Regions from separate parts of the Homo sapiens genome. Here all the other regions are linked to region 1. Evidence: fine-mapped expression QTL. Tissue or cell type: whole blood. Region 1 holds a variant in brackets; each other region holds the start of a gene. All regions are shown on one strand. Distances are between the middles of the regions.

The links. PIP is the estimated chance that this variant, and not a neighbour inherited with it, causes the effect.
Region 2: MIGA1 starts here. The variant in region 1 is fine-mapped to the expression of MIGA1 in whole blood (TOPMed, PIP 0.99).
Region 3: it holds the start of NEXN-AS1, and the variant in region 1 is fine-mapped to the expression of NEXN-AS1 in whole blood (TOPMed, PIP 0.94).

The regions. Positions count from the first base shown.
Region 1 is chr1:77,855,770-77,858,527 of GRCh38, reverse strand. The region is part of intron 8 of MIGA1 (mitoguardin 1); the gene reads right to left. Among named protein-coding and RNA genes, the nearest start is that of NEXN, 31 kb to the left of the region's middle. The variant G/T (reference allele first, on the strand shown) is at 1,433.
Region 2 is chr1:77,778,454-77,780,953 of GRCh38, reverse strand. MIGA1 (mitoguardin 1) reads right to left here and starts at 1,305. Exons shown (of 16, transcript NM_001416120.1): 1 at 1,218-1,305. It also overlaps the pseudogene RNA5SP21. RefSeq lists an enhancer at 1,329-1,418.
Region 3 is chr1:77,888,427-77,890,926 of GRCh38, reverse strand. It overlaps NEXN-AS1 (NEXN antisense RNA 1), which reads left to right and starts at 1,388. Exons shown (of 3, transcript NR_103535.1): 1 at 1,388-1,459; 2 at 1,659-2,500. It overlaps NEXN (nexilin F-actin binding protein), which reads right to left and starts at 2,303. Exons shown (of 13, transcript NM_144573.4): 1 at 2,168-2,303. RefSeq lists a silencer at 1,919-2,058 and an enhancer at 2,299-2,358.

The DNA.
Region 1 (2,758 bases):
AAATTTGATTAAACCATAAAAACCATTCAAGAGGATTTTATAGCTAATAAAATCTGAATTGATTTTACTTCAATAGAGTTGTTAAAAAGAGTAAAACTTTTAACAAGCTTAGTTCATTCTGAATCCAATTATTTAAATCCACAGAACATACAGAAAACCAATACTGTATCTTTTTTTTTTTTTGAGACAGGGTCTCACTGTCACCCAGGCTGGAGTACAGTGGCAGGATCTTGGCTCAATGCAGCCTCCATCGCCCAGGTTAAAGCGATTCTCCTGCCTCAGCCTCCAGAGTAGTTGGGATTACAGGCATGCACCACCACACCCAGCTAATTTTTGTATTTTTAGTAAAGATGGGGTTTTGCCATGTTGGCCAGGCTGGTCTCGAACTGGCCTCAAGTGATCCGCCTGCCTCAGCCTCCCAAAGTACTGGCATTCAGGCGTCAGCCACCGCGTCTGGCCAGCAATACTGTATCTTATAGTTCACCAAAAAGAACAACTGAAGAAGCATTTTTTAAAAAGAGGAGGAGAATTTTATCATCCATAGATTACTTACAAGTATTATAACCTATGATTATAATGAAGCAAAACTTAGTACAAAAACAACAAAATAAGCTCAGTGTTGCTATTCTAAGACATATTTCCTTATATGTAGCTTTGATTAACTTTTGTATAACTGAAAGACAGTCGTGCTTTTGGCTAGCATAACAACTCTACATATGAAATTCCAATCTTCTGACAGTTCATTAAAAAACAATTGCAAACACTGTAGAGTAGCCAGCTAAGCAAAAAAAAAAAAAAAAACAACAACCCAGAAAACTTCTAGAAAACTTCTAGAGTGTTTTGTTTGGAAGAAACAGGATCTCGCTCTGTCACCCAAGCTGTAGTGCAGTGGCACAATCATAACTCTGCGGCCTCAAACTCCTGGGCTCAAGTGATCCTCCTGCCTCAGCCTCCCGAGTAGCTGGGGCTACAGGTACGCACCACCACATCCTCTAATTAAAAAAATTAGGGGGGGCCAGGTGCAGTGGCTCATGCCCGCAATCCCAGCACCTTCCAGCACTTTGGGAGGCTGAGGCAGGCGGATCACCTGAGGTCAGGAGTTCAAGACCAGCCTGGGCAACAAGAGTGAAACTCCGTCACAAAATAAATACATAAATACAATACAATACAATACAAGTTACAAAGCAAAAACAAAAAAAAAAAAACCAAAGTACACAGGCAACAAAGAGCAGAGTGAATGTAATAGTACCTCGCATTTCAATACTAAAAACTGAAATTATGTCAAGCACTCTCTTAGACCACAGTGGAATAAAACTGGAAATCAACTCCAAAAAGGACCTTCAAAACCATGCAAATACATGGAAATCAAATAACCTGCTCCTGAATGCGCACTGGGTCAAAAACAAAAGCACGATGGAAATTTAAAAATTCT[G/T]CGAACTGAATGACAAAAATGACACAACCTATCAAAACCTCTGGGATACAGCTAAGGTGGTACTAAGAGGAAAGTTCATAGCCCTAAACGCCTACATCAAAAAGTCTGAAAGAGCACAAACAGACAATCTAACGTCATACCTCAAGCAACTAGACAAACAAGAATAAACCAAACCCAAACCCAGAAGAAGAAAGGAAATAACCAAGATCAGAGCAGAACTAAATGAAATTGAAACAAAAAAAAATACAAAAGAGGAATGAAACAAAAAGCTGGCTCTTTGAAAAGATAAATAAAATTGATAGACCTTTAGCAAGATTAACCAAGAAAAGATGAGAGAAAATCCCAATAACCTCACTAAGAAAAGAAACAGGAAATATTACAACTGATACCACTGAAATACAAAAGATCATTCAAGGTTACTATGAACACCTTTACGCACATAAACTAGAAAACCTAGAAGATATGGATAAATTCCTGGAAAAATACAACCTTCCTATCTTAAATCAGGAAGAATTAGATACCTTGATCAGACCAATAACAAGCAGCAAGACTGAAATGGTAATTAAAAAATTACCGATTAAAAAAAAGTGCAGGACCAGATGGATTCACAGGAGAATTCTATCAGACATTCAAAGAAGAATTGGTACTAATCCTTTTGACACTATTCCACAAGATAGAAGGAACCCTCCCTAATTCAGCATCACCCTAATACCAAAACCAGGAAAGGACGTAACCAAAAAACAAAACTACAGACCGATATCCTTGATGAACATAGATGCTAAAATCCTTAACAAAACACTAGCTAATTGAATCCAACAACGTATCAAAAAGATAATCCACCACAATCAACTGGGTTTCATACCAGGGATGCAGGGACAGTTTAACATATGTGAGTCAATGAATGTGACACACCACATAAACAGAATTAAAAACAAAAATCACACGATCACCTCAATAGATGCAGAAAAAGCATTTGACAAAATCCAGCATCCCTTTATGATTAGAACTCTCAGAAAAATCGGCATACAAGGGACATACCTTAGTGTAATGAAAGCCATCTAAGACAAACCCACAGCCAACATAATACTGAATGGGGAAAAGTTGAAAGCATTCCCTCTGAGAATGGGAACAAGACAAGGATGCCCACTCTCACCACTCCTCTTCAACATAGTACTGGAAGACCTAGCCAGAGCAATCAGACAGGAGAAAGAAATAAAGGGCATCCACGTCGGTAAAGAGGAAGTCAAACTGTCACTGTTTGCTGTCAATATGATCGTTTACCTTGAAAACCCTAAGAAGTTGTCTAGAAAGCTCCTAGAACTGATA
Region 2 (2,500 bases), 77 kb after region 1:
GCCTGGGCGACAGAGCCAGACTCCGCCTCAAAAAAAAAAAAAAAAGAAAAAAGAAAAAATATTATGACAAACCTCTATTTTTGCATTCTAACTACCTCATTCTTTTTCATTTAATATTACTGAGGAAGTTGATTCCAAACCTAATCATTATTCATTGAAAAACTAAAGAAAAAAAAACAAAAAACTAGTCATTTCATTTGCTTTCAGAAGCATAATAAAAATAAACATGAAGGGGGTTTCATGATTATTCAAATTTATAGACGGAATCTATAAAACATAACCAAAAATATTGTCCTGTGTGATATTACTTGCTCCTCTACATTCCAACTACTGGGGAATTAAAAATAAGTGTCATAAACAGTTTCTTAGACATCTTAAAATTCTATCCTGCAACTTTGACTTTATAATCCAACAGGAAGGAAAGTCTGAAGTATCAAAAAGAAAATTGACGTGAAGCACAAATCTATATAACCTAACTCTGACACTTTGAACAGAGCAAACATGTTTAGCTGCAATAACAACAACAATAAAACAACAATAATAAAGGTTTCAAAGTCCTGTGCAAAAACAAGCTGAGTCTTCCCTCTGGAAAATAGATAATTTAACAACTTTACAGAAGGACCTGACACCACAATACTCCCGTGCTAAATTATTCTCTTAAAGCACCTGCAAAGCAGAGTAATCTTTCACATCCAAAAGCCACTCCCTGCTCAAAACCACCCGCATCCAAGCCGAACCTGAGACCTCACCAGCTGCCCTACCTCCAGCGCGCTCTCCCCCGACCCCACAGCAGCCCCTCGCGGAGCTCTCCTCTGCTGTCTTCCTTTTTCTTTGCCAAGAACACCAGAAAAGGGGGTCCCTCCAGCTCGGCCGTCCAGACCCTTCCTCTGGCTCAGAGCAGTGGCGAGCCCATCCCAATTCCGCGCTTCCTTTGCAGGCCTCCCTCTGGCGTGGGGACCCTCCTGCTTTCCTATGCAAGTACTAACCAGGCCCGACCCTGCTTAGCTTCTGAGATGAGACGAGGTCGGGGGTGTTCAGGGTGGCACGGCCGTAGACCCTCTGGCTTTCCGCCGCTCCACCTGGCACTCCGAGAGCTAACGCCAGCGATGGAGTCCGCGCCACCCCTGCCCCGAGGCCTCTGCCCCAACTGCGTGGCCGCTCAACTCTCCGCTTCCTCCCGCCCGCCTCTCCACCCCACCCCGCCCCTGGCCCTGTACCTGGAGCTCCAGGCCAGGTACAGCTGGCCTGCCCACGCCAGCTTCCCAGCTGATGCCTGGCGCTGAGCAGCAGTCTGACATGGAGAAGGCGGAGTCCTTCCGGGGTCAGGAGTGCGAAGGTGGAGAGAAAGTGGAGGGGGCCTTCCAGGCTTTCTGCGTGAGGGACTACGTGTGAAGCAGCTCCCGCCATTTTTGTTTAGGGTAGAGGCTCCTTCCTCGTCAAGTGGATGCAAAAACTATATTCGAAGAATTGCATCCTTTTACAAACCGGTAAAAAAAAAAAAAAAAAACTAGTATTGTAGTTCGTAACCTGTCGGGGGATCTAGAACGGTTGTCAATCTGGTAAAAATTATGGAGGGTTTCCCCTGGAAAAAAAAAAATGTGTATACACATGCTCATTACATTAAAGAAAAAAAAGTTACACAATTTCAAAACCCTGAAAACAAGATTAAGAACTTCTACCACAGGCCCTCAGCCCTCAGATGAATGAGTGTTAAGAGGCATTCCAATCCGGTATAGATGATGCATTTATTATTGATTTCATGTCCTCTTTACCTTTTTTTCTGTGTTTCCCACTGAATTAGGCAACCGAAGAATATTGAATGTGGCAATTTATTGGCAGAGTAGTCACCTCTCTCAGGTTCTAATACATAGTAAACTAATAGGGGGCCGGGTTAGGAAAAAATAACAACAACAAAACCCAAGGTACTGTTTCTACGTTCAGTCTTCAGTCAAAACATTCCATCAGAACTGCAGATTTAGGCGGGGCACGGTGGCTGAAGCCTGTAATCCCAGCACTTTGGCGGGCCAAGGCGGGCAGATCACTTGAGGTCAGGAGTTCAAGACCAGCCTGGCCAACATGGCGAAACCCCATCTCTACTAAAAGTACAAAAATTAGCCAGGCACCTGCCTGTAATCCCAGCTACTCGGGAGGCTGAGGCAGGAAAATCGCTTGAACCCGGGAGGCGGAGGTTGTGTGAGCCCAGATAGTGCTACTGCACCCCAACCTGGGTGACTAGAGTGAGACTCTGTCTCAAAACAAAAAACAAAACAAAACAAAACAAAACAAAAAAACTGCAGATTTAAGAATTCCAGTTGCTGAGCATATTTGTGGTGAAAAGCCAAAATAATTCTGTTTTCAAAATTCCCATTTAACCAAATGGAAAATAGAATAGTAGTACCAATTTATGATATTATTAGATTAATAATAACTAACGATCCACAGACTGGGTTTTATGTGAAAATATTTTGCACTTATAGGGTAAATGGAGCTCTTGAGACTT
Region 3 (2,500 bases), 33 kb before region 1:
TAAACTACCAAGATGTTCTGTGTGTGTGTGGCCTACATAACTATAAAATAACAGTCCTCTCTTCTATAAAAACGTTTAGACTTTTACCTGTCTGTTACATACTTTTCCACATTCACTGCATTATTTTCTTTCTTTTAGGTGTGCACAACTCTCATATTTAAATAATCCCCCTTTTTTTTGTCTTTTAGGGTATTTCAAAGATAACAGGTATTTTTTTTAATAAATGAAGTATGTCATTATAGGCCGCTCAGATTCTAAGCAATCTGAATCCCCAATTAATGTCTTCCAAATATGCATATTTAGTTTTTATTCTGCTCAAAAATGAAACCCTAACCTAAATACTTCAAGTGAAATTTCAGGGGAAAAAGACTGTTCAAAAACCTAGATAATGCATTCCTTTGTTGATGCTAAATATAGTCATCTCAAGATGACATACATTTTGACAATGATCAGCCTTACATGTCAAATTTTCAAAAATAGCACAAATTCCATTTTAAGGTGAGCAGGAACAATTGCTATTCATTACATTTCAATTGAAAATGGATTTTAAAATATGAATCTTTTATTAAAACTGGATTACATTGTAACTATGATGAGGAAAACTGGATTTAAAATAATTTTGTTGTGGTTTTAGCTTAGAATTCTTTAAGGGAATTGCAGATAAACTACATAATTGCATGCATTTTTCTTTAAATTGTTCCTCAGAAGCATTAGTCAAAATATAAAATATCTGCAAAAATACGGTGTTAATTGTAAGGAAGAAGAAACTTAAACAGCTACATTGGTTAATCAAAGTTTACTTATACAAATTATACCTCCCCCCAAAAAACCTTTCTCTCATTTGATTAATTATGCATTTTTTCTTAACAATACCCCAAACTCAAAAGAATTTGAGACAAAGTTTTCTAACTGCAGCAGTTTAACCTGTAAAGGATAATGTTTAGCGGGGGAAATTATGTGGTCCACTCAATAACGTGTGACTAAGATATAAATAACGTGTGACTAAGATATGAACTTAAGTATAAATACTTAAGTTTATTTAATCACATTACCTAAGACATAGTTATGTTGTGACTCGAAGGCCAATGGGCCGCTGCTACATGAATTCATTAACAAAATTTAACGATGAATGATATTCCCGTTGTTTTGGTCAGGGAACTAATTTCTTTATTATGGCTTCTTTTCTCTACCTGTGTCTTCACCAAGGACATTTTGTTAGGACATATCCTTATGCTATTTTTACCTTGTTATCTCTCTGCCAACTTGGTTCACGTTGTGCTTTAATAACTATAAAATGAGCATCTCTAAGTCACTGCAGTAACCAACTATAACCTCTCAACTTCGTCATTTTCTTTATAAATGCCAATGCTAATGCATTTGTAGAACGTTTCACAATTTACAAACAGCTGGAATGGTTTGGCGTTTTCAAAAGCATATAGGCAAAGGGAGTTCTCAAGAGGTGACTACATTCTTCACTCACTTAAACTACGTAAACTTCGTAAACTTCCAGCCCTAGTTGCTCAACCCCCAGCATCCCACCTCGGGCAGAATCACGAAAAAAAAAAAAAAAAGGGTTGGAGACAGGAGTGGGGGGATATGCGGGGGTGTGGGGGGGGAGTAATAGGCTGTTAAATCATATTTCTCCCCATCTTCCACAGAGACCGATCAGAAAGGATTTCTTAACTGGCACTGCTGGCAGAGACGGAGACCGCGGCTGGGGCAAGTGGTGGGGGACGGCACTGAACTTCCCTAAGGACCCCAAGGGTTCAGCCGAGGGATCGGCACCCACTCCGCTCACAGAGGGCTCCCTCCCTACAGTAGGGAACGCACCCGAAACTCAGCCGACAAGGCGCAGGGGAGCAGGGCAAAGACATTGCAACCAGAAGCCCAAGGCCGGCCGACACTTTCAGACCCTGGGGCAGCCCCTGGTAGGCACCCCGCCGAGCCCGCAGGATGCGGCTCCAAGGCAGGGTTCGCCCGGGCCGGGGCCAGCGCGGACCACAGCTGTATGGCGCCCGGCGCCCTCCGGAGCTGCAGCGGAGCACGGCCAGAAGCCGCAGACCCCGAGCGCCTCTCTGCAGCCGCCGTTCCCGCCCCCGCCCCCACCAGGGGACCCGACACCTCCGTCTCCACTCCCCCCAGCCCACGTTCCCCCAACTCTTCTCACCCTGCAGGAGCCGGTGACCGGCGAAGGTACTTCTTTCCGCGTGGAGGGACTGTGCGCGTCCCGCCTGGCTGTGGGTAGGGGTCTGGGAGCTCTGGCCGCTAACACTTCTGCTCCAGCCGCTGGGAGTCCTCTGGCTGCCGCTGCCGCCGCCGCCGCCGCCGTCTCCAGCAGCAAGTTTCCATAAAAGTCCTGGTGTGCAGCCTGTTCCCGCATTCCAGGCGGGCCCAGCGCCGGCTGCAGCTGTTCCAAAACACAAGGCCAGTTCCCCCAACCCCCCACCTCCGCCGTTATCACCCGGAGTGGGGGTGGAGAGTTGAGGAGAAAAGCAGGGGA